Linked DNA regions of Homo sapiens: regions 1, 2, 3, 5 and 6 are each linked to region 4. Evidence: fine-mapped expression QTL. A gene starts in region 4. Each other region holds a variant in brackets. All regions are shown on one strand. Distances are between the middles of the regions.

What was found. PIP is the estimated chance that this variant, and not a neighbour inherited with it, causes the effect.
Region 1: its variant is fine-mapped to the expression of CYP1B1 in whole blood (INTERVAL, PIP 0.96).
Region 2: its variant is fine-mapped to the expression of CYP1B1 in whole blood (INTERVAL, PIP 0.95).
Region 3: its variant is fine-mapped to the expression of CYP1B1 in whole blood (TOPMed, PIP above 0.99).
Region 5: its variant is fine-mapped to the expression of CYP1B1 in whole blood (TOPMed, PIP above 0.99).
Region 6: its variant is fine-mapped to the expression of CYP1B1 in whole blood (TOPMed, PIP above 0.99).

The regions. Positions count from the first base shown.
Region 1 is chr2:38,104,858-38,108,945 of GRCh38, forward strand. No RefSeq gene overlaps it. Among named protein-coding and RNA genes, the nearest start is that of CYP1B1-AS1, 24 kb to the right of the region's middle. RefSeq lists enhancers at 2,038-2,777, 2,778-3,517. The variant T/G (reference allele first, on the strand shown) is at 1,738.
Region 2 is chr2:38,207,431-38,211,518 of GRCh38, forward strand. The region is part of intron 1 of LOC102723739 (a long non-coding RNA gene); the gene reads right to left. Among named protein-coding and RNA genes, the nearest start is that of CYP1B1-AS1, 78 kb to the left of the region's middle. The variant T/C (reference allele first, on the strand shown) is at 2,096.
Region 3 is chr2:38,173,249-38,177,336 of GRCh38, forward strand. All of the region lies in intron 2 of CYP1B1-AS1 (CYP1B1 antisense RNA 1), which reads left to right. Among named protein-coding and RNA genes, the nearest start is that of CYP1B1-AS1, 44 kb to the left of the region's middle. The variant C/A (reference allele first, on the strand shown) is at 1,786.
Region 4 is chr2:38,074,181-38,078,264 of GRCh38, forward strand. It overlaps CYP1B1 (cytochrome P450 family 1 subfamily B member 1), which reads right to left and starts at 1,971. Exons shown (of 3, transcript NM_000104.4): 1 at 1,600-1,971; 2 at 166-1,209. The coding sequence starts at 1,208. RefSeq lists a promoter at 1,952-3,327, cis regulatory regions at 1,966-1,973, 2,894-2,923, silencers at 1,967-2,056, 2,967-3,086 and an enhancer at 2,794-2,992.
Region 5 is chr2:38,126,875-38,130,962 of GRCh38, forward strand. The region is part of intron 2 of LOC107985871 (a long non-coding RNA gene); the gene reads right to left. Among named protein-coding and RNA genes, the nearest start is that of CYP1B1-AS1, 2.2 kb to the right of the region's middle. The variant G/A (reference allele first, on the strand shown) is at 1,933.
Region 6 is chr2:38,148,504-38,152,591 of GRCh38, forward strand. The region is part of intron 2 of CYP1B1-AS1 (CYP1B1 antisense RNA 1); the gene reads left to right. It overlaps LOC107985871 (a long non-coding RNA gene), which reads right to left and starts at 1,663. Exons shown (of 4, transcript XR_007086290.1): 1 at 1-1,663. The variant C/T (reference allele first, on the strand shown) is at 2,002.

The DNA.
Region 1 (4,088 bases), 31 kb after region 4:
CTGATCAGTTACAATTTTTAGGATCTAGTCTTTATCCCAGAGACCCAGATCTGTGTATTCTGTATTCTTTTGTACCCTGTGTTATTGCTTCACCAAGAGTATACTCCAGGTGATTTTTTTGTGTGTCCTTAATTTTGTCATTTTGTGGTCATTAATAACATCAGTTAACAATAATATTATTATACTGTCCACTACAATGTGCGTTTGTGAGCACTGGCAACAATTTAGCAGAACAGAATGAGTTAGATTCCCAATTGTGGTAGATCACGTGTAGTAGCGAACAGAGCACAGAAACTCCGGATCCTAATTCTTGATTTCCTGGCAGTGATACCTTCCCATTCCATTACATAAGGTATAAGTGGCAGAAGATCAGGGAGAACCACAGGGCTGTAAGATATTTTATAAGTTGTTAAATAAGGGGACACTGCTTTATTTGGGGCATGTCACTCAATCTCTTCAACATTGTGTTAGGTAGGTATCATGAACTAAATTGTGGCCACCCAAAACTCATACCTCGAACCCCGGGTACCTCAGAACATAATTGTATTTGGATATGGAGTCTTTAAAGAGGTAATTAAGTTAAAATGAGGTTGTTAGAGAGGGCTGTAATCTAATATGACTGGTATCCTTATAAGAAGATTGAAAACACAGATGTGCACAGAGCAAAGACCACGTGAAGACACAAAGAAAACAGCCATCTGCAACTCAAGAAGAGAGTCCCAGAGCACATTGTGATCTCTGACTTCTGGCCTCCAGAATTGTGAGACAATGAATTTATATCGTTTAAGCCACCAGTCTGTTGTACTTTGTTATGGCAGCCTGAATGGGCCAATACAGTGAGGTTCCCTGGAAGACTTTCAGATGGGGACTTGCATGCAAGAAGTTTAACAGGGAGAGCTCTCAAGAGCAACCCCCGGAGGGAGAGAGGGAGGAAAGGAAAATTGGGCAGAGAGAGAAGCTGACCTCTGATGCAGCTGCTACAAGGTTCTCAGCTGATCCTAGGGTTCTCAGCTGATCCTACAGGGTGTTCTGGAGCTGGGATGGCCCCGTAGAGTTGCCTGGAATCAAGGCAGGGCCCAGGGAGGGAGATAACCTTGGCAAAGGCAGCTTCCTTCAGCGGGGGAATTCCCAGTGAGGGACTCAATTGTGGCTGTTTGCAGTGGGCACTGGACAGCTGGGGAGTGAGTTTCTCCGCCCTGACGAGGGGTCTGGGTGACATCTCACAGCATCCATCGCAGACCTGCAGCTCCTAGTCTGCAGACCAGGATAAGCACAATGCCTGTGGTGCATTTCCCCGCAGGCGGCTGTGAGGAGCTAATGAGATAATGGATATGAAAATGCTCTGCAAACTGTGAAGACTATCAATATGCTGTTATGCATCATTCTCTGTTATTTGTTGCTATCCTGTCCTTTCACCTTCCCCAGGCCGGAATGATCACATTTTCTCTTTCCCTAGCTTTATTCCTGGGTCACTAGCACAGGGAAAAAATAAGAAGAAAAATCAGAGTGGAATTCTAAAAAACAAAGGTCCTGTGCTTTTCTGCCTAAAATATGTACAATCCTCAGTTGGCACTGTCAGGAATGGGGACCGCCCTCATGGAGAAGTGGCACTTCCACTCCTAGCCAGCCTCTGTGTGAGCTGGACTCTAAGGTCAGGAGAATGAGGAGGCCGTGAAGGTCTTGGCCGTCTCTTTTTCCCCTCATCTCTACTGAGACATAGATCGAGACAGGGACCCA[T/G]AAATCACCTTGGAGTTAAATCAGGGGAAAAAAGAAAAGCCCTCTCAGGCAACAGCATTTCACAGCAGCAACAGGAAGTTGTAGGGAAAAGAGAAAAGTCAAAACTCAAGTGAAAATCTGAGTCATGGTTCAGAGAGGCCACAAATACCTTTCTTATGGAGAGTCAGAAGAGGGAACACAGAGAAAACTGAGAGGTTTTTTTTTTGTTTGTTTGTTTTGAACTTTTTAAAGGAGAATTTGTTTTTAATCCTGTGAAGCTAGTAAACATCTCTTTAAAGAATGTGTGTGGTCACACAAGTTGAAGGGCTAGAAAATTACCTCCTCACAGCCCAGATGGTTTTAAGTGGGAACAGATAGGAAGGAGCGTGAGTTAAAGCTCCCACCCACACTACAGGACCCTGCTGTTCCAGCCGCTTTCCTCTGCCACTAGCTCAGGAAGAGCGAGGGCTGCCTCTCAGACACAGGGAGTTCCTGCAGGCTGACTTCAGGCACTCCAGAATGAGGTGTCCGTATTTTCCTAAGTGCTGAGGGTCACCCTACCTCCTCCTCTTTTATTAAGATTCTCTGAACCACTCAGAGAATACACAAGTTAAAAATAAATTACTTCGGCAGATAGTGAGGGTACAGAAGTCCTCGGTAAGGTTTTCCTTTTAATGAAAACCAGCCCCAAATACTTTTCCTTTCTAACAAAGAGCAGCCTGTGAAATCAAGCTACAGACATAGATGCCAGCAGAGGAATACTACCTGGGACTAGGCATGTTCAAAATGGCGGTTCCATCTTCTCTTCCTTTTTTTTTTTTTTTTTTTTTTTTTTTTGGTTAGTTAGTTTGTTTTTGTTGTTGTTGCTGTTGTTTGAGACGGAGTCTCGCTCTGTCGCCCAGGCTGGAGTGCAATGGCATGGTGGAGGCTCATTGCAACCTCCACCTCCCAGGTTCAAGCGATTCTCCTGCCTCAGCCTCCCAAGTAGCTGGGATTACAGGAATGCACCACCGTGCCCAGTTAATTTTGTATTTTAGTAGAGACGGGGCTTCACCATGTTGGTCAGGCTGGTCTTGAACTCCTGACCTCGTGATCCGCCTGCTTCGGCCTCCCAAAGTGCTGAGATTACAGGTGTGAGCCACCGCGCCCAGCCCATCTTCCTTTTCTCAGTGCCAGCCACGTGTACATTAAGGAACAGACAACATGGCGCGGGTCAAGTGGAAAGCTCTTTTGCATAGTAAGATGAGGGTGAGGTAGCCAGCCTTCCTCCTGCTATGTAAACATCACACCTAATCGAACTGATCTGTGGGCCCTATGTAAATCAGACACCGCCTCTTCAAACCTGCCTAAAAATTTGGAGAATTCCGCCCCAGCAAGTCTTTCCCTTTCAGAAGCCCCGCTCTCTCGCTAGAGAGAAAGCTGTTCTCCTTTCTCTTTCTTCTGCCTATTAAACCTGCGCTCCTAAAGGCCTCCTTTGTGTCCCTGTCCTAAATTTTCTTGGCGCCAGGTAACGAACCCTGGGTATTTACCCCAGACAACGAAGCCGCTTCAGAATGACAAAACAACAGACATGGGGACTTCTGGCAAACAATAAACCACAAATGAACAGAGAGAGATTAGAAAATAAATCTAATCACAGCAGAGGAGGAGGGGAGAAAATAGCTTCTCTTCCCAGAAACACAGGAGAGACAGAAAGCAGGCTGCCCTGTTCTGCGCCTGCTCCATTCTCCAGTAACATACCGTCCTGGTGTAGTGAGACTTTTCGCATTATAGGGCCCAACTAGAGATCCAGTCATTTTTACTTACGCTGTGAGCCAAGATTCTGAGTAAATGGGTTTATCTTGATTGCAGTTAAAGTATCTGGTTGGGCACATCCTAACATGAATATTATACCAACAATAAAAATCGTGGAAATGTGGGGAAATGTCCACGATATGTTCATAACTTAAAGTAGGTTAGCAGTGCATTGTCAACGTAAATAAAACAGTATATTGAGTGTGATTCCAATATTGAAAAACAAAATAAAGAGCACTAAATCTGCCAAGTTCAAAGACCAGAGTGCCAGATGCAAAATGTTTAATGTTTCTTTCTGTGATGGGATTATTTTTTTCTTTATATTTTTCTGTATTTCCTGATTTTTTTCTACAATAATCATGTTTCTACTGTAATCTGAGATATAAAACATTAGAAAATTTGGTCAGATGAGTTGTTCCAGGATTGTGATTATTTCTCCACAAACAGATGCTCCTCAACTGATAATGGGATTTTGTTCCTATAAGCCCATCATAAGTTGAAAATACCGTATGTCAAAAATGCACTTCATACACCTGACCTACTGAACATCATAGCTTAGCCTCGCCTACCTTAAACAT
Region 2 (4,088 bases), 130 kb after region 4:
AACATGGCAAACCAACCAAAATATCCATCAACAATAAAATGGACTTTATAAATAGTGGTATGTTCCCATAATGGAATATTACACAGCAGGGGTCCCCAAACCCCAGGCCACACAGACCAGTACCAGTTTGTAGCCTATTAGGAACCAGGCTGCACAGCAGGAGGTGAGCAGTGGGTGAGCAAACATTACCACCTGAACTTCGCCTCCTGTCAGATCAGTGATGGCATTAGATTCTCGTAGGAGCACAAACCCTATTGTGAACTGCACATGCAATGGATCTAGGTTGCATGCTCCTTATGAGAATCTAATGCCTGATGATCTCAGGTGGAATAATTTTGTTCCTAAACCATCACCTCCCCCAACCCACTGTCCATGGAAAAATTGTCTTCCACGAAAGTGGCCCCTGGTGTCAAAAAGGTTGGGGACTGCTGTTATACAGTGAACAAACTACCTCTACATGCAAAAACATGGAACATTACAAACATAATGTTGAATGAAAAAAGATAGTCACCAAAGAGCACAAAAGTTCAACTACATTTATATAAAGTTCAAATACAGGAAAAACTAATTCATAATGTTAAAAATTATGATAGTGCTTACTATTGGGGTGAAGTGGATAGTGACTGGAAAAAGCACAAGAGGTGTGTCTGAAGTGCTGGTGATGTTCTATTTTTTTTATCTTGGTGCTGGCTACAAGAGTGTGTTCGCTTTATGAAAATTCCTCAAATGTACACTTATTATTTGGTACATTTGTCTGCATTTATGTTATATGTCAATAAAAAATGTACCCTGTAAAATCATGTTTTATGGTTAGATGATGCAGTTGAAATTGAAAATGATGGGTTTTGTGGAAATACAGATGTTCAGCCAACAGGAAGAAAAGTGACGTATACTTGGAGTTGACAGGATATTACTGGAGATAAATATGTCATTCCTTACAACAGTCACAGATAATGATAAAGGCAAAGGGAAGAGAAAGCTAAAGAAGGAATCTTGGTGAATGTTTACCTGTAGGTGTTGGAAGAAGAAAACAAAGAGATGGAAAAGGACCAAGACATGCATGCACATAGAAGCCAGGCTAAAGAATGCTTCAAAGAAGAGACAGGGGCAGCTAATCATCAACACAAAAGCAGCACAGTGGTTAAGAGTGTGGGCTTTGGAGCCAGAATTTCTGGATTCAAATCTTCCAATTTTCATCTATAAAATGGGGCTATTAGTTGATACTACTTCATAAAGTTAATTCATTTGAACAGTGGCTAGAATGCTCAAAAAGATGAGAAGTATAAGAAAAGATTGCTGGATTTAGTAGTTAGAATCAGGCTACAAAGTATGGTGAGAAAGTAGATGCAAAAAGAGGATTTTAATGAGCAGCCAGTGTCCATCCAAAAGGCCACAAATTGATTCTCCAGCTTTCTAATATGACACTAGAGTATGTCCAACCTTTCTAGTTCCGAAGTACTCACTTGTGGAGGCTACAGATTGGCTTAGGTCCCCATTAGGAAGGGACCTCAAGTTATCTGATCCAGAAAGAAACATTGGTTTTTTTCAGTTTTCTGGGAAGTTTGAATGCAGATATACTCACCTTATAGAAGTAATGCCTGGGGTGAGTTTCTGTTTCTCAGGTTAAGAAGTTTCTCCAATAAAATTCATCTCAGAAAAGAGAGAGGAGGAGGAGTCCTAAGTAATTATCCATAGAAGGCCAACTAACAGTTCTATCTAAAGTTTATTTTCCAGTGGTGCCACTGATTGGAAGGCCACTGGCTGAAATGCACGTGATGTAACTCAGTATTGCAAGTTGAGTCCTTCAGGGTTTCAAGTAAGGATGAGACTGGACCACAACCACAGAGAACTAATGTAAAATCCAAAAGATATGACATTGTGAAGAAATTACTACACTGAACACTGAGCATAAATTTCTATGTTCCTTGTAGAGAGTGCCAAACAGTATATCACAAAATTCATTTAAAAATATTCTTTGACTTAAAAATAATGTATCCTAAAAAAGGATACATTTATCCTAGAAATTTATCCTAAGGAAGAAGTTCAAAAGAGGCCAAATAAAAAGCTATATGTAATTTTGCAGTGTTGGTTCTAA[T/C]AGAAAAAAGAAGTAGCAATAATAACCAATAGAAAAAAAGTTTTTAAAAATAGGCCTGAAAACAGCGTAAGTATTAGTGGCTATTAAAATAGTAATTATGAAGTCTATATAAACACATAGGGAAATGTTTATTATATCTTAAAATATAATAAATGAAAAAACAGGAAATAAAAAGGTACATAGACTGATTACTATTTTGTACAATATTGTATACATGTTGACAAGAAATCAAAAGGAATATATAAAAACAAAAAAAATGTCAGGAATAGATAATGAGTGGATAGTTTTTTCTTTTCTCAAAAATGTGTCAAGACTCCTGCTTCCAAACTAACACAGGAACAGAAAACCAAACACCACATGTTCTCACTCATAAGTGGGAGTTGAACGATGAGAACACATGGACACAGGGAGGGAAACATCACACACTGGGGCCTGTCATGGGGTGGGGGGCTGGGGAGGGATAGCAATAGGAGAAATATCTAATGTAGATGATGCGTTGATGGGTGCAGCCAACCACCGTGGCACGCGTATACCTATGTAACAAACCTGCACGTTCTGCATTTGTATCCCAGAACTTAAAATATAATAAAAAGATTTTTTTTAAAAATGAACAATTGAAGAAATAAAGAAGACTCCTGTTTCCAGGAAGATGAAACAGATATGCTTTTCTCATTCCTCTAAGTACAAGTGAAAATGCTGGATAGTATATATAAAGCAAACGTAAGATCACTTTGAAAGGTGAAGAGAAGACAGTAGAACAGCTAGAGACAGTGATACCCATAGAAAAATATGGTGAGTTCCATGGGTTTTCTTTCTGCCTTATATACTCCAGACTTGGAACTAAAGAAGTAGGTAACCTAGAAATGCCAACAAACACAGACCAAAAAACACCCCCAACAAAAGCTTACTCTCCTCAAGCCAAAGGACTAAGAAAAGAGCCGCATAGAAAGACAAAACAACTTTTAGATAATTTAGACAATAACCACTCTACCCTAGCTAAACCTCACAAAAATAAACAAACAACAACAACAACAAAAACCTGTGAGCCCATCCTCACCCACACAGGCAAGGGCAAGTGAGAGCCTAGATTTCCACCCTTGCAAGGCTCTATCGAGGCACTCCAAACCTCTTCCAGGGTGGTATTAGAGAAGGCCAAGAAGGCAACTAGGACTTTCATCCCAGCTGGCCAATAACAACCCACCTTCCTCCCTCATGGTACCAGTGGACAGCTTGTAGAGAACATGAACTTCTTCCAGTCCCACCTGGCAGTAACAAGGCATTTCTCCCCATAAGGTGGTATCAGTCAGGTAGAGAGGTGGGACTTTAATCATCACCCAGCAGTAATGAGGCTACCCTTACCACAGTGTCAGCAGAGACAACATGGAGAGCTGGAACTCCCTCTGCTCAGCAGTAATGAGAAGCCACCCTACCAAGAATTCATAAAGACTGAGTGGGGAACCTAGACTTCTATCTCTACTTGAAATTAACAAAAGAGCACTCTGCAACCTTTCCCTGACACAGTGACATCAGGGAAAGCCAGCCAATATTTTGCCAGCTAAACCAAAATATTGGAATAAAATCCAGAGTCTGATAATATAAAATGTCCAGATTTTAACTTTAACATTTACTCATCCTACCAAGAACTGGAAATATCTCTAATTGAATTTTTAAAGATAAACAATAAATGCCAACACCAAGATGAGAAAGCTGTTAAAATGTTTTCGACAAAGATTTCAAAGTAGTCACATTAAAAATGCTTTGACAAGCATTATAAACATACTTGAAATGAATACAAAAATATAAATTCCCAGCAAAAAAAAAAAATGTCAGGAAAGAAGTAAAAGAAATAGAGGAGAAGCAAATGAAAATTTTAGAACTAAGAAATAAAATAACTGAAATAAAAAGCTCAGGGGATGGGCTCAACAGCAGAATGGAGAAGATAGAGAAAAAAAATCAGTGAATTGGAACATAGAACAATAGAAATTACTTAGCA
Region 3 (4,088 bases), 99 kb after region 4:
TTGAACCCAGGAGCCGGAGGTTGCAATGAGCTGAGATGGCGCCACTGCACTCCAGCCTGGGTGACAGAGCGAGAACTTGTCTCAAAAAAAAAAAAAAAAAAAGGGAGAAAGAGAAAAGCAAATGCAAATATCTTCAAACGTCATAAGAAAAGGCAAAAGTGAATCCGATAAATATATTTTAAAACAATAATAAAAGAGGCATTTTGCTGACAGATAAATTCATGAAACAAGACTGACTTTTTTGAATGCCATTCATAGAACTGCCAGGTCAGCTGTGTAGTGTGAGGTATATTTCAATGCAAAATACTGAAATTATAAAAACAGGATTATGCACACAAATGTTTCAAGCCTTTATAATTTTTTTAAGTCCAAATGGCATAGGTCCATTTATAAAATATTTTCTGAATTTATATTATGATTTAAACTAGCAATATCCTATTAATTAACTTATTTAAAATTCATAAGGAGACAAGTTATTTAAAAAAAAAAAACACTCTTGAACTGAGTAAAAAATAGCACGAAGTGAGGTTCAGCTCTGGGGAGAAGGGAAGTTGTGCTAAAACTTTTCAAAATGGAATTTAACCTCAGACTTTTAAAGCATCACTTTCTTTAAGGATTCACGGCTTTCCTCCCACACTGGTCTGGGGCCAGTGTCTGGAGTAAAGTATTGCTACTCCTAAATGAGATTTTAGAAAGTAGCATAGTTTCTGAAAGGAGCAGCCACTGGAAACCAAAAACTTTCTCAGGGTACTCAAACGGTTTGAAGAGAACTGATATTTGAAAACGGAAATCCTTCCATTTGTGACAACATGGACAAACCTGGAGAACATTATGCTAAGTGAGATAAACCAGTCACAGCAAGACAAATACTGCCTGATCTTTTGTATATGTGGAATCTAAAATAGTTACTCTCCTAGAAGCAGAGAGTAGAATGGTGGTTGTCAGGGCTGGGGTATACAGGAAATGAGGAGATGTTGGTCAAAGGGTACAAAGCTTCAGCCATGCAAGAGGAGTTAGTTCTGGAGACCTAATATACAGCATAGTAACGACAGTTAACAATACCGTATTGTAGACTTGAAATTTGCTACAAGGGTAGATCTTAAGTGTTCTCACCACAAAAGAAAAGAGGCAGCTATGTGAGGTGATGGGTAAGTCAACTAGTTTGATTGTGGTGATCATTTTCCAATGTATACATATATCAAAACATCAAGTCATATACCTTAAATACATGCAATTTCTATTTGTCAGTTATGCCCCAATAAAGCTGAAATTTTTTTTTTAAATGAGAACTGATGTTTGCATCCAGTTGCTGCTAAAGGCACAAATTTTCTTTAAAAACTATTGAATGATTTTCCAGCTCTTACAGACATACTGGGAAGAAAAAAGTTAAAAACTATTTGAGAAATTTGGATTGAACTACCTCATCCTGTATGAGGTAAGGCCAATGTGCAATCTTGCATTGCTAATCACTCAAGCAGAGTGCTCAGAAGCTGGGAAACAGGCTGCGGTTAAGAACATTGCTTAAGGAAGAATAATTAGATCCTTTCCGTGTCTCATAGCCACAATTTTTTTCCAGCTTTGGCTGTTGTTTGAGCAAGACCTTGTGTATCAAACATTGATCTAGCCAAGTGGCTTAGTGGAGAATTTGCTCAAATTGGTTTTTTAGTATCTTGTTGGCAGGAGGGGAAATGACTGCTTGAACGTTTCAGCCTTAATGCTGACATGTGGTGACTTGAAGCCAGGTGAATGAAGGTTCCTCCAGCTAGAGAGGTAAGATGAACATGC[C/A]GGACCAGGAAGAAAGCAGGTCATCATGTTAGACAGGTGCAATTATGTGCAGAGACTATAAAAGAAGAGAAAAAGACATTTAGTCATCAGAGAGCAGCCATTCAAGTAAGACCTTGAAGGAAAGGGAGGGTGAATCAAACAGAAAATATAATGTAAGCAAACGCACAGAGGCTATACTGTGGAGAGGATGTGGGGAAGAGGGAAGTGGTCCATTTGACTGGAACAGAGGGTAAATTTAAGGCAGTAGGAGGTCATAAGACTTATGGAAAATTTGGAATGCCAAAATGGGACTGTTATGTGTTAGGTTGATACTGGGTGGGGGCACTGAGGATTTTTAAAACGTGATCAGGGCTGCCTTGTTGAAGGTAAACCTAGCGGTGGTAAGTCAAATGAAATGGAGTCATGAGAGAACAGGTGGTACTAATCACTACCAGTACTGAGTGCTTTGCAGATGCTACTTCATATACATAATCTGATTTAATTCTGATAGCAAGAACCGTTATTAGCCCACTTTACAGATGATAAAATTGAGGCTTAGGGTGATTAAACAACTTGCTCAAATTCACACAGCTAAAGCAGAAGAGGCAGTGTTTTAATCTAGACACAGGTACCTGCCCTTAATCACTATGCTTGACAGCTTCTTAAGCTAGAATGGGTGGTAGGTGACCGGGGTCTGAATTAGGAATTTGGAGGTAGTAATGGAAAAGAGGGATCAAATTCTTAGAGGTAGGATAGGCAAGACTTCACCAACAGGAGCCTACGGAGGTCTGTGATTTGGTGGCTGCGTGAAAAAGAAGAATGATACTGTTACTAACCTAAATAAAGAAACCAGAAGAAAGACTTGGCATCGATTAAAAGATTATTAATATGGTTTTAGTTATATTGACTTTGAAATGCCATGAGTAGATCCAGTGAAAATGTCCATCCAGCCATCGGAAATGTAGTTTGGTTGCTAAAGAGGGGAGATGGAGCTAGAAAGAGAAGCTGAGGCATCACGTGCAAGCAATAGAGGGGCAAATACGCAAGGGAGGGTGGCAGAAGAAAATCATCCCAGGTGTTTCTTTTCTTCTTACTCAGCTCGGAATAGAGATGACTTCTGAGTTTTTATCTACTCCCATTCAGGAATGAAATGGAGAAATGTAGGTCAAAATTTTACAAAATGGTCATGTAGAATAATTCTCTGACTTCCCATCTCTGGGAGGAAGAGAGGCAGCTTTAGTAGAAGTGTGAAGATTCTAAGCAAAATTTAAGTAAAATTATTAATTTTTTTAGAGATGGAGTCTTGCTATGTTCCCCGGGCTGAATTCAAACTCTGGGCTCATGAGATCCTCTCACCTCAGCCAAGTATCTGGAACTGCAGGTGTGCCTCACCACTCCTGGCTGTCTAACTAAAATTATGAAGGGCAACCCATTATCTCTTTACTTTCTCTTGCCCCAGAATAAGACAAGAATGCCGAGGCCTGGTCAGTATCCCAGGGTACCACCGCCAGTGCTGGCCAGAGCAGGCTCTGAGAGGCTAACACAGGCCACAGAGCCTAGGGCCTTGTTTTGGAGGGTGAGGTGAGGCTTAAAGCTGGTAGGATAGGCGCCCTCTGAGATTCGCCATCTGAGAAGTCAGTCAGTTCTTTATTAAACCATTCTAAACAACAGAAAGTGCAGTGGGTGGGCAAGATTCCACTGCTGAATTCTTCAGCAGGCCCTGCAAATGAATGACATGGTGTCAATGGGAGGGAAAGTGAAGCAATAAACACAGATGGTGTTTGTGCAATCTCATCTGGGTCAAGGAAATCACCTCATCACTCTTCTTTGATGGGCAGATTCCTATCTCTTAGTTTACCATTTTCCTTACTAATTCCCTCAGCTCCATCCAATGTGCATTCTTGTGTCAAATTGCATGTTCATGAGTATATTACATGTTCCTGTTGTGAGTATGCAGGGGTTACCATGGGATGACCCCTGTGCTATGAACTTGGAACCTCAAGAAATTAGATTGCCTTTTAAGAATGAATCAGAGAAGAAATACAGGAAACCACTTTAAATAACAAATGTGTTCCTAGGATAGCAAGATTTGACTGGACCCTGACTGACGAGATTACTATACCTAAAGAAAGAACGCATTCGTGAGAAGGAGAGTTCTGCTCAGTTATGAACAAAGCAACTGCATTCAATAAATATTTGTTGAGTACCTACTGTGTTCCAGCAGAGAGCTCGCATTCTAGCTGGGGAGACAGAAAACAAATAAGTGCATTTATAATTGGATGTCTGCTTGTGATATGTGTGTATCCCAGGCAGAGGGTCCACAG
Region 4 (4,084 bases):
CCCTCACTGTGAGTCCCTTTACCGACGCGATCTTGGTTTTGAGGGGTGGGGACCTGGAGCGAAACCCCAAACCCGGGGCCCTGCTTGCAAACTCAGCATATTCTGTCTCTACTCCGCCTTTTTCAGAGGAGAAAAGACCTGGCCCACGCCTCCCAGAGGCTTTACCTGGTGAAGAGGAGGAGCAGCCACTGCAGCGCGGTGGACAGGGTGTCCTGGCTGGCGCCGAAGATGTCAGTGATAGTGGCCGGTACGTTCTCCAAATCCAGCCGCGCGCCACCACCGTGCGAGTCCCCGGCCGCCTTCTTTTCCGCAGAGAGGATAAAGGCGTCCATCATGTCGCGGGGGGCGGCCCCGGGCCGAAGGCTTTCGCAGTGCCTCAAGAACTTGTCCAGGATGAAGTTGCTGAAGTTGCGGTTGAGCTGCTCGAATTCGCGGAAAACGGTGCGCACCGGGTTGGGGAAGTACTGCAGCCAGGGCATCACGTCCACCAGGCTGCCCGCGCCCACCGTGCGCCCGAACTCTTCGTTGTGGCTGAGCAGCTCACGGAACTCGGGGTCGTCGTGGCTGTAGCGGCAGCCGAAACACACGGCACTCATGACGTTGGCCACGGCCACGACGGTCAGCGGCCTCGGGTCGAGGAAGGCGCCGTCCGCGCTGCCGCGCACCAGCAGCGCCACCAGCTCGCGCGCCTCGCTCAGCACGTGGCCCTCGAGGACTTGGCGGCTGCGCGGCTGGCGCGTGAAGAAGTTGCGCATCATGCTGTGGGCTGCGCGCCGCTGCACCTTCCAGTGCTCCGAGTAGTGGCCGAAAGCCATGCTGCGGCCGCCGGACACCACACGGAAGGAGGCGAAGGCCGGCCGGTCGGCGAAGGCCGAGCCCTGCTGCACCAGGGCCTGGTGGATGGCGCGCTCGCCATTCAGCACCACTATGGGGCAGCTGCCCAGGCGGATCTGGAAAACGTCGCCGTAGCGCCGCGCCAGGCGAGCGAACGAGAGGTGAGCCGCCTGGCCCACCGCCGCCGCGTTTCCGATCAGTGGCCACGCAAACGGGCCCGGGGGCGCGGACCGGAGCTGCCGCCTCCGTTGCCTCAGCAGCCGCTGGCCCACATGCACAGTGGCCAGCACCGACAGGAGTAGCAGGAGCGTGGTCTGCTGGATGGACAGCGGGTTTAGCGGCCAAGGGTCGTTCGGGCTGAGGCTGGTGCCCATGCTGGGGACAGAGAGGAGAAGGCGTGACACTCAGGGGTGCAGAGACAGGAGCGGGCGCCCCACGCCCCTACCCCAGCCTCTGGGGACTGAGTGCCGTTGGGTGGAGAGGTCGGAGCTGACTCTCTGGAGAAATGGCCGAAGACGCCCCTTCCCATCCCCAACCCACTCTCCCTTGGAGAAGAGAAGGGGCGTGTTTCCACCTCGCTGTAACCCAGCGCCAAACCCTTCCCCTCCCCGCAAGGCGCGTAACGGTTCCTGCAATCTGGGGACAACGCTGCGGGCATCGAGGCGGTGGCGCTTGATTTCCTTTAAAGTACCTACCACGCCACCCGCTACCTGTAATAATCCATCTGAAGAGGTCGCCGGGCAGCGCCTCGGCAGACAGACTGACCTGCGGGGAGGTGCGGTTTCCAGTGGCGCGGGACAGCCGGCTCCGAGAAGGAACTGGGACCTTTGCCTAGGGCAAGACGTCAACAGGAACCCGCAGGCCCGGCCTGGACACCTGCTGCCCTCACTGGAAGCTTTAACTCCCACTCGAGTCTCTTGGCGTCGTCAGTGCCAGGAGCGCTTGGATTGGGATGGGGACGGAGAAGGGTGCCTCGCTCGCCGAGCCCCGCTGCCCTTGGGGACCTGGCAAAGTCGAGGTTTCCTCACAGCGTTGAGATTGAGACTGGGGGTCGGTGAGTGGCGTCAATTCCCATGCCCTTGCGGCTCTCACAACTGGAGTCGCAGAAGCGCTCGCTCCCACTCCCACTCCAGAGTCAAAGCGCGCCATCCCGCTCCTCCGGGTTTTAAGGACTGGGTAGAAGGAGGGCAGCGCGACCTGGCAGGGCGGGGCCTGCGGGGGGCGGGGCGCGCCGCACACCAGGCCGCTTTGACCCGGACTCCCGTCCAGGCGCACCGGCCGGCCTCGGAGCTCTACCAGCAGGCTTTCATGGGAGCGGAGGTGCCCACGTTTCCATTGTGCGGTAACCGCGCTTCATCACAGCCACCTCCAATCGAGGCCGCACGGTGTCCCCAGAACCACGCTCGGTACAACCTGCCCCGGCCGCTGCGCTCGACTTGGGAGCGCGCCCCGCCCCGAGCGCACGACCTCCCTTCCCTCTCCGCGACTTGAGCTTGCTTCCCGGAAAGCCAGTGTAGTGGCAGCGGTTTGCCTCACAGCGCCCCTGGTTGGTTGTTTAAATTTTATCTTAGGTTCTCGCAAACAAATTGCCACCTCAGTGGAGGCTCTTTGGCATGCTAAATTTTTTCCAGTTCTTGCGGCGAGATCAGGAATCCCTAAAAGTAGCCGCTCCCCCGCCCCGGGGCCCCGACAGTGCTTGGGCACACAAAGGCTCCTGGGGCGCAGCTGGCCCTGAGATTTCCCGCGTAGAGGCCACTCCAGGTGGCGCCGCCCGCTGGTGGGCGCGGGGCCGCCCAGGCTGCGATGGAAGCCGTTGGCGCAGGGCGGGGAGCCAAGCTGGGGCGACTGGGGGGGCCTGGGGGAGCTAGCGGGGCGGGACCCGAGCGGGGCGGAGAGTGGCAGGAGGAGGCGAATCTCCGCGCTCCGGCGAACTTTATCGGGTTGAAGTTTCTGCTGTCGCCTCCCCTTTGCGTGCGGAGCTGGGCTTTGCGTGCGCCGCTTCTGGAAAGTCGGCTCCAGTCATATCCCTGGGCGCTGCCTGCGGCCGCTCCTCCCGCGCTTCTCACGGCACCTGACACGCGGAGGCGGCGGCCGAGGGTGGGGTGCCGGCCACCACCACCCTTGGCGTGGGGTGCCGGCCGCCACCACCCTCGGCTGCGCACGCACAGTCGCGCCTGCCAGGCCAGCGAGGCGGACGCTTGGGCCACCACCCGCAGGCCGAGCCCGGGCGCGTATCGCCACCTCGCTGCGCACCGGCGGCTCTGTGGTCTTCCTGGGCGCGCTTGCGGTCGCGAAGGGGGCCCTCCCTTTATAAGGGAAGCCGGAGGCGCTTGGGCGGGGGTGGCTTCCCCCGCCTGGCGCGCCCTTTCCTACATGCTGATGCATAGGATTTTCAAGACAGCTAAGAGAACAAGGACTTCACGAGGCGGGGGGAAGGGCGAACTCGAGGGAAGAGGTGGGATGTATCTGGTTAACCAGGTAGGAATTGTACTGGCTTCATCAAAGGATAAATATAAAAGTGATAGGTTCACCAGGGACAACCCTGCACTTTGAGCTCCACTCGCGCTGCGAATCTCGTGCTATTATTGACCTGTTTACAGATGAATAAACTAGGGTTCAGAGAGGTTGCGTGACTTAACCCAGGTCGCGCAGCCATCAAGAAGTGGAGCCAGGGCTTGAAGCCACCAAGTCCCACTCCAGATCCTTCACATAAGTTTACACGGAAGAAAATTGCAGATAAGAGGCCCAAATGCCTTCTTTCCTGCCTCCCTTAAAAAAAAAAATGCACGTGGGGCTAGGCGCAGTGGCTCACGCCTGTAATCCCAGCACTTTGGGAGGCTTAAGCGGGCGGATCACTTGAGGTCAGGAGTTCGAGACCAGCCTGGCCAACATGGCGAAACCCCATCTACTAAAAATACAAAAGTTAGCCGGACGTGGTGGTGCACACCTGTAATCCCAGCTACTCGGGGATCAGGGGGGAAGGCAGCAGAATTGGTTGAACGTGGGAGGCAGAGGTTGCAGTGAGCAGAGATTGCACCACTGCACTACAGCCTGGGCAGCAGAGTTTAAGTGAGACTCTGTCTCAAAAAAAAAAAAAAAAAAAAAATCAGCTGGAAGAACTTTTTAATTATTGTTTTTGTTTTCATAATTGAGAATTCTGAGAATAGCAGAGAAGAAATAGTATGCTAACCCTTTGCAATTAAATTGCTTATGAGGGAGGCCAGGGGAGTGTGCCTCATAGCTGACCCTG
Region 5 (4,088 bases), 53 kb after region 4:
GGAAAGCTCAGAAGAAGACAGGAAGATGAGGAAATGTTTGGAATTTCCTAGAGACTTGTTTAATGGTTTTGACCAAAATGCTCATAGTGATATGGGCAGAGATGGCCAGGCTGATGAGGTCTCAGATGGAGATGAGGAACTTATTGAGAACTGGAGTAAAGGTCACTCTTGCTATGCTTTAGCAAAGAGACTGGTGGCATTGTGCTCCTGCTCTAGGGATCTGTTGAACTTTGACCTTGAGAGATGATTTAGGGTATCTGGCAGAAGAAATTTCTAAGCATCAAAGTGCTCAAGATGTGGCCTGGCTGCTTCCAAAAGCCTAACTCATCTGCATAAACAAAGAAATGACCTGAAAAGGGAGGCAAAGCATAAAAGATAGATAGGAAAATTTGCAGCCTAGCCATGTGGTAGAAAAGAAAAACCCATTTTCTGGGGAGAAATTCAAGCCCAATACAGAAATTTGCATAAGTAAAGAGGAGCCAAATATTAGCAGTCAAGACAATGGGGAAAATGCCTATGAGGCATTCCAGAGACCTTTGGGGCAGCCCCTCCCATCACAGGCCTGGAGGCCTAGGAGGGAAAAATGGTTTCATGGGGCCAGGCCCAGGGCCCTGCTGCTTTGTGCAGCCTTGGGGCATGGCACCCTGCATCCCACTTGCTCCAGCTACAGCTGTGGCCAAAAGGGCCCCAGATACTTCTCAGACTGCTGCTCCAGAGAGTGCAAGCCACAAGCCTTGGTGGCTTCCATGTGGTGTTAAGCCTGCAAGTACAAAGAGGATGAGAGTTGAGGCTTGGGAACCTCCACCTAGATTTCAGAGGATGTATGGAAAGGCCTGGATGTCCAGGCGGGAGTCTCCTGCAGGGGCAGAGCCTTCATGGAGAATATCTAGTAGGGCAGTGCAAAGGGGAAATGTGGGGTTGGAGCCCCCACACAGAGTCCCCACTGGGGCACTGCCTAGTGGAGCTCTGAAAAGAAGGTCATCCTCCTCCAGACCCCAGCTTGCACTGTGTACCTGGAAAATCCACAGGCACTCACATCAGTCCATGAAAGCAGCCACAGGGGATGTACCCTGCAGAGCTGCCCAAGGCCTTGGAAGCCCACCCCCTCCATCAGCATGGCCTGGATGTGAGACACAGAGTCAAGATTATTTTGGAGCTTTAAGATTTAATGACCGTCCTGCTGGGTTTCGGACTTGCATGGGGCCTGTAGCCCCTGTGTTGTGGCTGAGTTCTCCTTTCTGGAAATGGAGTATTTACCCAATGCCTGTACTCCCATTGTATCTTGGAAGTAGCTAACTTGTTTTTGATTTTACAGGCTCATAGGTGGAAGGGACTTGCCTTGTCTCCGATTAGACTTTGGACTTGGACTTTTGAGTTAATTCTGGAATGAGTTAAGACTTTGGGGGACTGTTGAGAAGGGATGGTTATATTTTACAATGTGAGAGGATATGAGATTTGGGAGGGGCCAAGGGTGGAATGGTATGGTGGGGCTTTGTGTCCCTACCCAAATCTCATGTTGAACTGTGATCCCGAGTGCTGGAGGGAGGGTTTGGTGGGAGGTGATTGGATCACAGGGGTGGTTTTTAATGGTTTAGCGCCATTCCCCCAATTTCTTAGGAAATCTGCTTGTTTGAAAGTGTGTAGCATCTCCTTTGCCCCTCTCCTGCTGCTAATGGCCTGTTTCCCCTTCACCTTGTGCCACGATTGTAAGTTTCCTGAGGCCTCCCCCAGAAGCAGAAGCCTGTACAGCCCACAGGAACCATGAGCTGACTAACCATCTTTTCTTTATAAATTACCCAGTTCTTTATGGCAACGTAAGAATGGACCAATAGAGCACATCACTAGGGTAGCACAAAGGAGAGGGCCCAGAAGCAGAGGAGAGATAAACAGCTCATTTTTTTCATCTTTCTCAATGTTTCTTGCTCACTCTCT[G/A]TTGTTTGCATCCATTTTTCATTTCATCCCATTTCCTCTTTTTTCCCTTTCATTTCCTCATTTTGGGACAGCAAGAGGTCATGTTCTTGCTGCCAACAGTTACGACATTTTCAGTAGTCATGACAGCCACAAAGCCAGGGCTGGACTTGTCCAGAAGTCTGATCTGCAGCAGGAGGGAGTCTGTAGTGTGCAGGGGCTCTCCAGCTGTCACTTAGATCCCAAGCTGCCCCTTCACTTTTAATTTTGCTGATGGTGGCTTTTGTCAAAGGCAATTTAAAATTTAGGGCTAGGTAGTCTAATCTGTCAATCTTTTCTTTTCTTTGTGGTTTCCAGGTTTGTGTCTTACTTAGGAGGGCCTTCCCAATGCTAAAATTATATATATAAACAGATATACCACAATTGCCTAAACAGAAATTTGGGCAAGCTGGCACATTTGAAACAGGGCTGTCTCCTAAAATTTGGAACGTGTGGATAGCGTGCATATGCTTGGACTCTAGGACTTACTTTCTCTGGAAAAATCCGTCTAGCTTCCTCACTCACTGCCTCTGCCTCCCAGCTCCAGCCTAGCCATTTCATCTTATGGTGGGGGAGCACTCAGTTGCTAGGGCCAGAAACCCACTCAGAGTAACTTAAGTAAATGGGGATTACTTGCACAGTGATAACGGAATACTGTGAAACCCAGTTTGAAGAATTGCACCTGGATCACTGAAGGGCTAGAGTCTGGAGCTGCCCTTCCTCCTCCCTTTCTCTCAGTTATCTTTGTCTCTGCTCCATCCTCCCCCTTCGTCAAGCATACTCTGTTACCACATGACCTTAAATGACTGTCTAACTCAGTCCTTGAGCCCACAGAATCTTGTGAGTCTAGCACTCACAGATAAAAAAACACCCTCAGGCTTTCTGTGTCCCAACTCCAAGTTCTAGATAAAGATGTCTGATTGGTTAAAGTGGGTCATGTTTAAAGTGGGTCTACTCCCAATTCAGTTATTGGTGGCCAGGGCCATGAGCCACATGGTTGCCCCTTGGGGCAGTGGGCAAGGTAAAGTTCACAAGATGTGGTGGGGAGGAAATGACCACTGTAACTCTGTGGTCCAGTTCCCACACCCATATTGTGATTTTTGCTCCCCTTCAAGTTTGCCCTTGATGTTGTCTGTAACTGAATTCTGTTTTCTCCCATGGTTAGATTTATACCAGATCCAGGACCTTTTAGGGAGGGCTGTGGTCCTGTCCCCTTGGGGAGGCTCTGATCTAAGACTGCTCCCTCATGGAAATTAAGGAGAAGGGGAAAGCCTAGGCTACAGATGGAGAAGGATGAGTCATTCCAGCAGCCATGGCCAAGGGAACTCCTGGAGACGTAGGGACTGTTTATGTGGCCACTCACCATCATGCAGGCCCCCAATGGGGGTGAGGCAAGGAAGGACATAGAAAGACTGCTCAAGTGCATTTCTGGTTTTGCTTCCTACCGCAAACGACTCTTGTCATATGACTGGGGGAGTGTGGTGGTGGCAATAAGCAGAAAAATTTGAGTCTAAGAGTTGCTTTCTGAATTCTATTAGGGTCAATGTAGTCTAAAGAAGTTGACTTTTGAGGAAATAAATCTTTTCTGTTTTCTGCAGCCAGACTAAGGATTTAGTGGTGAATGGTAGGTGGGAACATAGTGGGACTCTGACTGCTCATACGGCCTCTGTGAGGCTCAATTCTTTTATCTCTAAAAGAGAGAACTGTCTACCTGGTAAGAGAAGATCTTTTGGGAGCCCACTAAACTCTAACATAATGTTATTATACAGTAAGTTCTCACTTAATGTCATCGACAGTTTCTTGGAAACTATAGCTTTAAGCAAAATGACATGTAACAAAAGCGTTTTTTTCTCATCAACGTTATAACAAAACGTTAAAGGAAGTGACATTATTTATGAACCTGCTGCATGTTGTTTTGCTTAAAGTTACAGATTCCAAGAACCTATCGATGACATTAAGTGAGGACTTACTGTACTAGTATCATTTATAACTTATAAAAATGACTTAATTAATATACCACAAAATATGCAGCTTTCATGTTAGAGACCAGATAAATATGAATATTTTGTTAAAATGTCTCTCTTCTCTACTTTACCAGTCTTCACCAACCTCCTCCCTCCAGAATATTCCTCAAGAATATA
Region 6 (4,088 bases), 74 kb after region 4:
GCCTGGGATAATTTACTCCTGGATGGTAAAGATATGTCTTGGTTTCATCTGTGTTAAATAAACCTGCACGATGTTACAAGCTGGCATTGCTTCATAAGCTTGACCTTAGCTTTCAAATAGGACCTCGATCATTGCTCAATGACCAAGTCACAAAGTTGCCTAATGATATTGGCCCACAGCCATGTTATTGCAAACATGGCAATGACTGGCCAAAACCAGGTGTGCTCCTTACATTTCTGCCCGGGTGATACTCTCAGAGAGCTCCTCGCCATGAGAACTAAGTCAGTCTCCCAGTGCCAGGAGCCAGGACAATTACGGGGCTTTCCCTATTGTGTGTTCTTGCTGCTAACCAGCTCCCAGGCCTAGGCTTCTGAGAAACAGTGTAGGCACACAAGCTGCAGATCTCTCCTCCCTTTATTCTCTCTCCCCTTCCCCAAACCCACAATAGCCTCTACCATAGTGCTTATTCTTTTGACCTGTTCTGATCTGCTAGCCTAACTATTCCCCAACACCTTTAGGAAGATAGGTCTTCCCTGACCCTCAGTCTGAGGTCTAGAAGCCCTTCTGCCTTGCCTCACAGGCATCTTCCCTCCTCCCCCGTCCCCTAGACCAGTCCAACAGCAGCCCGTGCAGCCTCTGAAGTCCACTCCCAGTGCTAGCTGATGGGAACCCCATGGGCTCCTGTCTGCTATACAAATGGAACAGACTTTCTTCAGAGCCAACCCCAGCTGCCCCACTGAAGCTGGTTGCCACAGTGATTTTCAGTCTCATACCAGATTCTGATCTCTTCTCTTGCCCACCTTTGGTGCTGCAGAGTGGATCATCTTGTTTTATACTCAAGTCATCATTAAAATTTATAGAAAAAGAGAGAATTTAAAAAAAAAAACACTAAAAAATCACCTTGTACGCATATACCTCAGAAGATCTTTGGCCTAATGGTAATCTGTGACATTAAGGCAAATAACCAAAAATATGTAATTTTTCTATTTATTTCTTTGAGTGGGCTCAGTTGCAGATATATGAATCTGACCAGGGTCCTGATCACTTCCTGCTCCCAAAGACCACCCTTTGAGCCTGTAAGATCCAAAGTCAACTCAGTGGATTAATGTGCAAGTCTAGCCTGAGCCAGTAAGACATGGTTCCCTCTAAGATGCCAGGAAAGGACCTAGGGCTTCCCTGGGCTGAGCTCTTAGGTAAGCCATGGCCTGGCCTGGCCTCTTAGAGGTTGTGCAAGACCAGCCTCTGTGATCTGCGAAGGCCCTGAGTCCCAGACATCGTCTCCAACACTGACCTAGATCCAGTGCCAGCAGGACAAGAAAGTCCCCTCTGCTTTAACCTTTACATGAAAAGAAACTTTGAAATGACCAATCCACATTTTTTTTGTTTGTTTTTTTCTGCTTTCCACAGCCCTTTTCTGTCTGTAAAACCAACCTCCTCTTCTTGGCTCATCAGAACACTCATTCTATTTTATGGAATAAAGTGCTGCCCAATTGTAGAATCAAAAATACAGCAAATTAATGTTTTTTATATAAAGTTTTTGATACATAATAATTACACATATTTATGGGGTATCTGTGATATCTTGACACAGCCATAGAATGTGTAATGATCAAATCAGGGTATTTAGGATATCCATCGCCTTGAACATGTATCATTTCTTTGAGCTAGGAACATTTCAAATTTTCTCTTCTGGCTATTTTGAGATACTCAATATGTTTTTGTTAACTATAGTCACCCTACTTTGAGGCTGAATACTAGCGCTTATTCCGTCTAACTATATGTCTGTACCTATTAACCAACCTCTCTTCATCCCACACACCCTTCATAGCCTCTAGTAGCTACCATTCTTTTCTCTACCTCCATGAGATCCATCTTTTTAGCTCCCACATATGAGTAAGAATATGCAATATTTGTCTTTCGGTGCCTGGCTGATTTTACTTAACAAGATGCCCTTCAATTCCATACATGTTCCTGCAAATGATAGAATTTCATTCTTTTTTA[C/T]GGCTTAATAGTATTCCATTGTGTGTGTGTGTGTGTGTGTGTGTGTGTGTGTGTATCACATTTGCTTTATCCATTCATCTGTTGATGGACACTTAGATTGATACTGTATCTTGGCTATTGTGAATAGTGCTGCAATAAACATGGGAGTGCAGGTCTCCCTTTGATATATTGATTTTTTTTCCTTTGGATAAATACCCAGCAGTGGGATTTCTGGATCACATGGTAGTTCTATTTTTAATTTTTTGAGAAACTTCCATAGTGTTTTCTATAATGGCTATACTGATAAATGAATTTAACAAGGTTGCAGAATACAAAATCAACATACATAATCAATAGCATTTCTATATACCAATAATTAACTTGCTGAAGAAGAAATCAAGAAAGTAATCCCATTTAAAATAGCTATAAAAAATTAATTGTCTAGGAATAAATTTAATCAAATTTAATAAATTCTTTCCGATGAAAGAAATTGAAGAAGACACAAACAAATAGACGTTCCATGCTCATGAATTGGAAGAATTAATATTGTTAAAATGACCATACTACCCAAAGTAATCTACAGATTCAATCTCTTATCAAAATACCAATAACATTCTTCACAGAAATAGAAAAATAATCCTGAAGTTTATATGGAACTACAAAACACCCCAAATAGCCAAGCAATACTGAGTAGAAAGAACAAAGTGGTAGGCATTACACAATCTGACTTCAAAATATACTATATTTGGTTACATATAGTAACCAAAATGGCATGATATTTAGTATAAAAAGACATATAGACCAGTGAAACAGAATAGAGAACCCAGAAATAAATCCACGTATTTATAGCAAACTATTTTCAACAAAGGTGCCAAGAACATACACTGGGGAAAAAATACTCTCTTCAATATACGGTGTTGGAAAAACTGGATATCCATATCCGGAAGAATGAAATTGGATCCCTATTTCTCACCATATACAAAAATCAACACAACATGGATTAAAGACGTAAATGTAAGATCTGAAACTATAACACTACTAGAGGAAAACACAGGAGAAATGCTTCAGGACATTGATCTAGGCAAAGATTTTATGGCTAAGACCTCAAAAACACAGGCAGCAATTAAGATCTTTAAACCAAATTTGTTGTAATTTTGTCTTATGACACTAGCAACACAAGTGAATTTAGAACCATTTGTCTGGTCACTTACCGTAGAATTAACCACCTTCAAAACATGTAACGACTTTACCACTTAAACCCTTACCATTTTGTTATGGTCAGGGATACTGTGGGCCAGGTATTCAATAAGGACACAGTAGAAATGGCTTGTCTCTGTTCCACAATGTCTTGGACCTTAGCTGGAAAGAAGCAAAGGCCAATGGTTACTTGATGGCCGGGAGCAAATATCATCTCAAGGCTCCCTTCCTCACAGGTCTGGTTCCTATGCTAATAGGACTCAAAGACGAGGATAGGTGACTCATTACCTACCCATGGCCTCTATACATGGGTTGGTGTTTTCACAACATGGTGGCCTAGGTATTCAGACTCAAGGCTCCAAGAACTAGTGTTCTAGAAAACTAAGAGGAAGCTGCGTCACTTTTTATGATTGAGCCTCAGAAGTCAAGCAGTATCACTTTCCCTACTCTACTGTTTGAACAATTACAAGCCCACTCAGATTCAAGTGGACTCCACGTCTTGATGAGGGGGAACTAAGGTCACAACGTAGAAGAGCACAGACGATAGGAGACACTGGCCATCTTTGGAAAATACAATTTGCCACTCATCATGTGTTAATGCACAGATGAGGAAGTGCTATCTGCTCTTCTCCCCTCCTCAGCTCACCCTGACTTCTGTGTTTCCAGTCCTGATTATTTATAACACATGTTCAATATAACAAGGATGTTTTGAAGCCCAAAGGAGTGAATCCTTTCCTAGCCTTTCAAACCAAGATAAGGAAAAAGTGGAAGAAGACATTAAGACATGCAGCTCTAAGGAACTATCCAAATTACACTAGGTAGATGCCCTGCAGATGTTTAACTTCAAGATTTCCAGAGGCCACGTGTGTGTCAGTATCAGAGAATCAAGTTTACATTCTCAATAAGTAGAT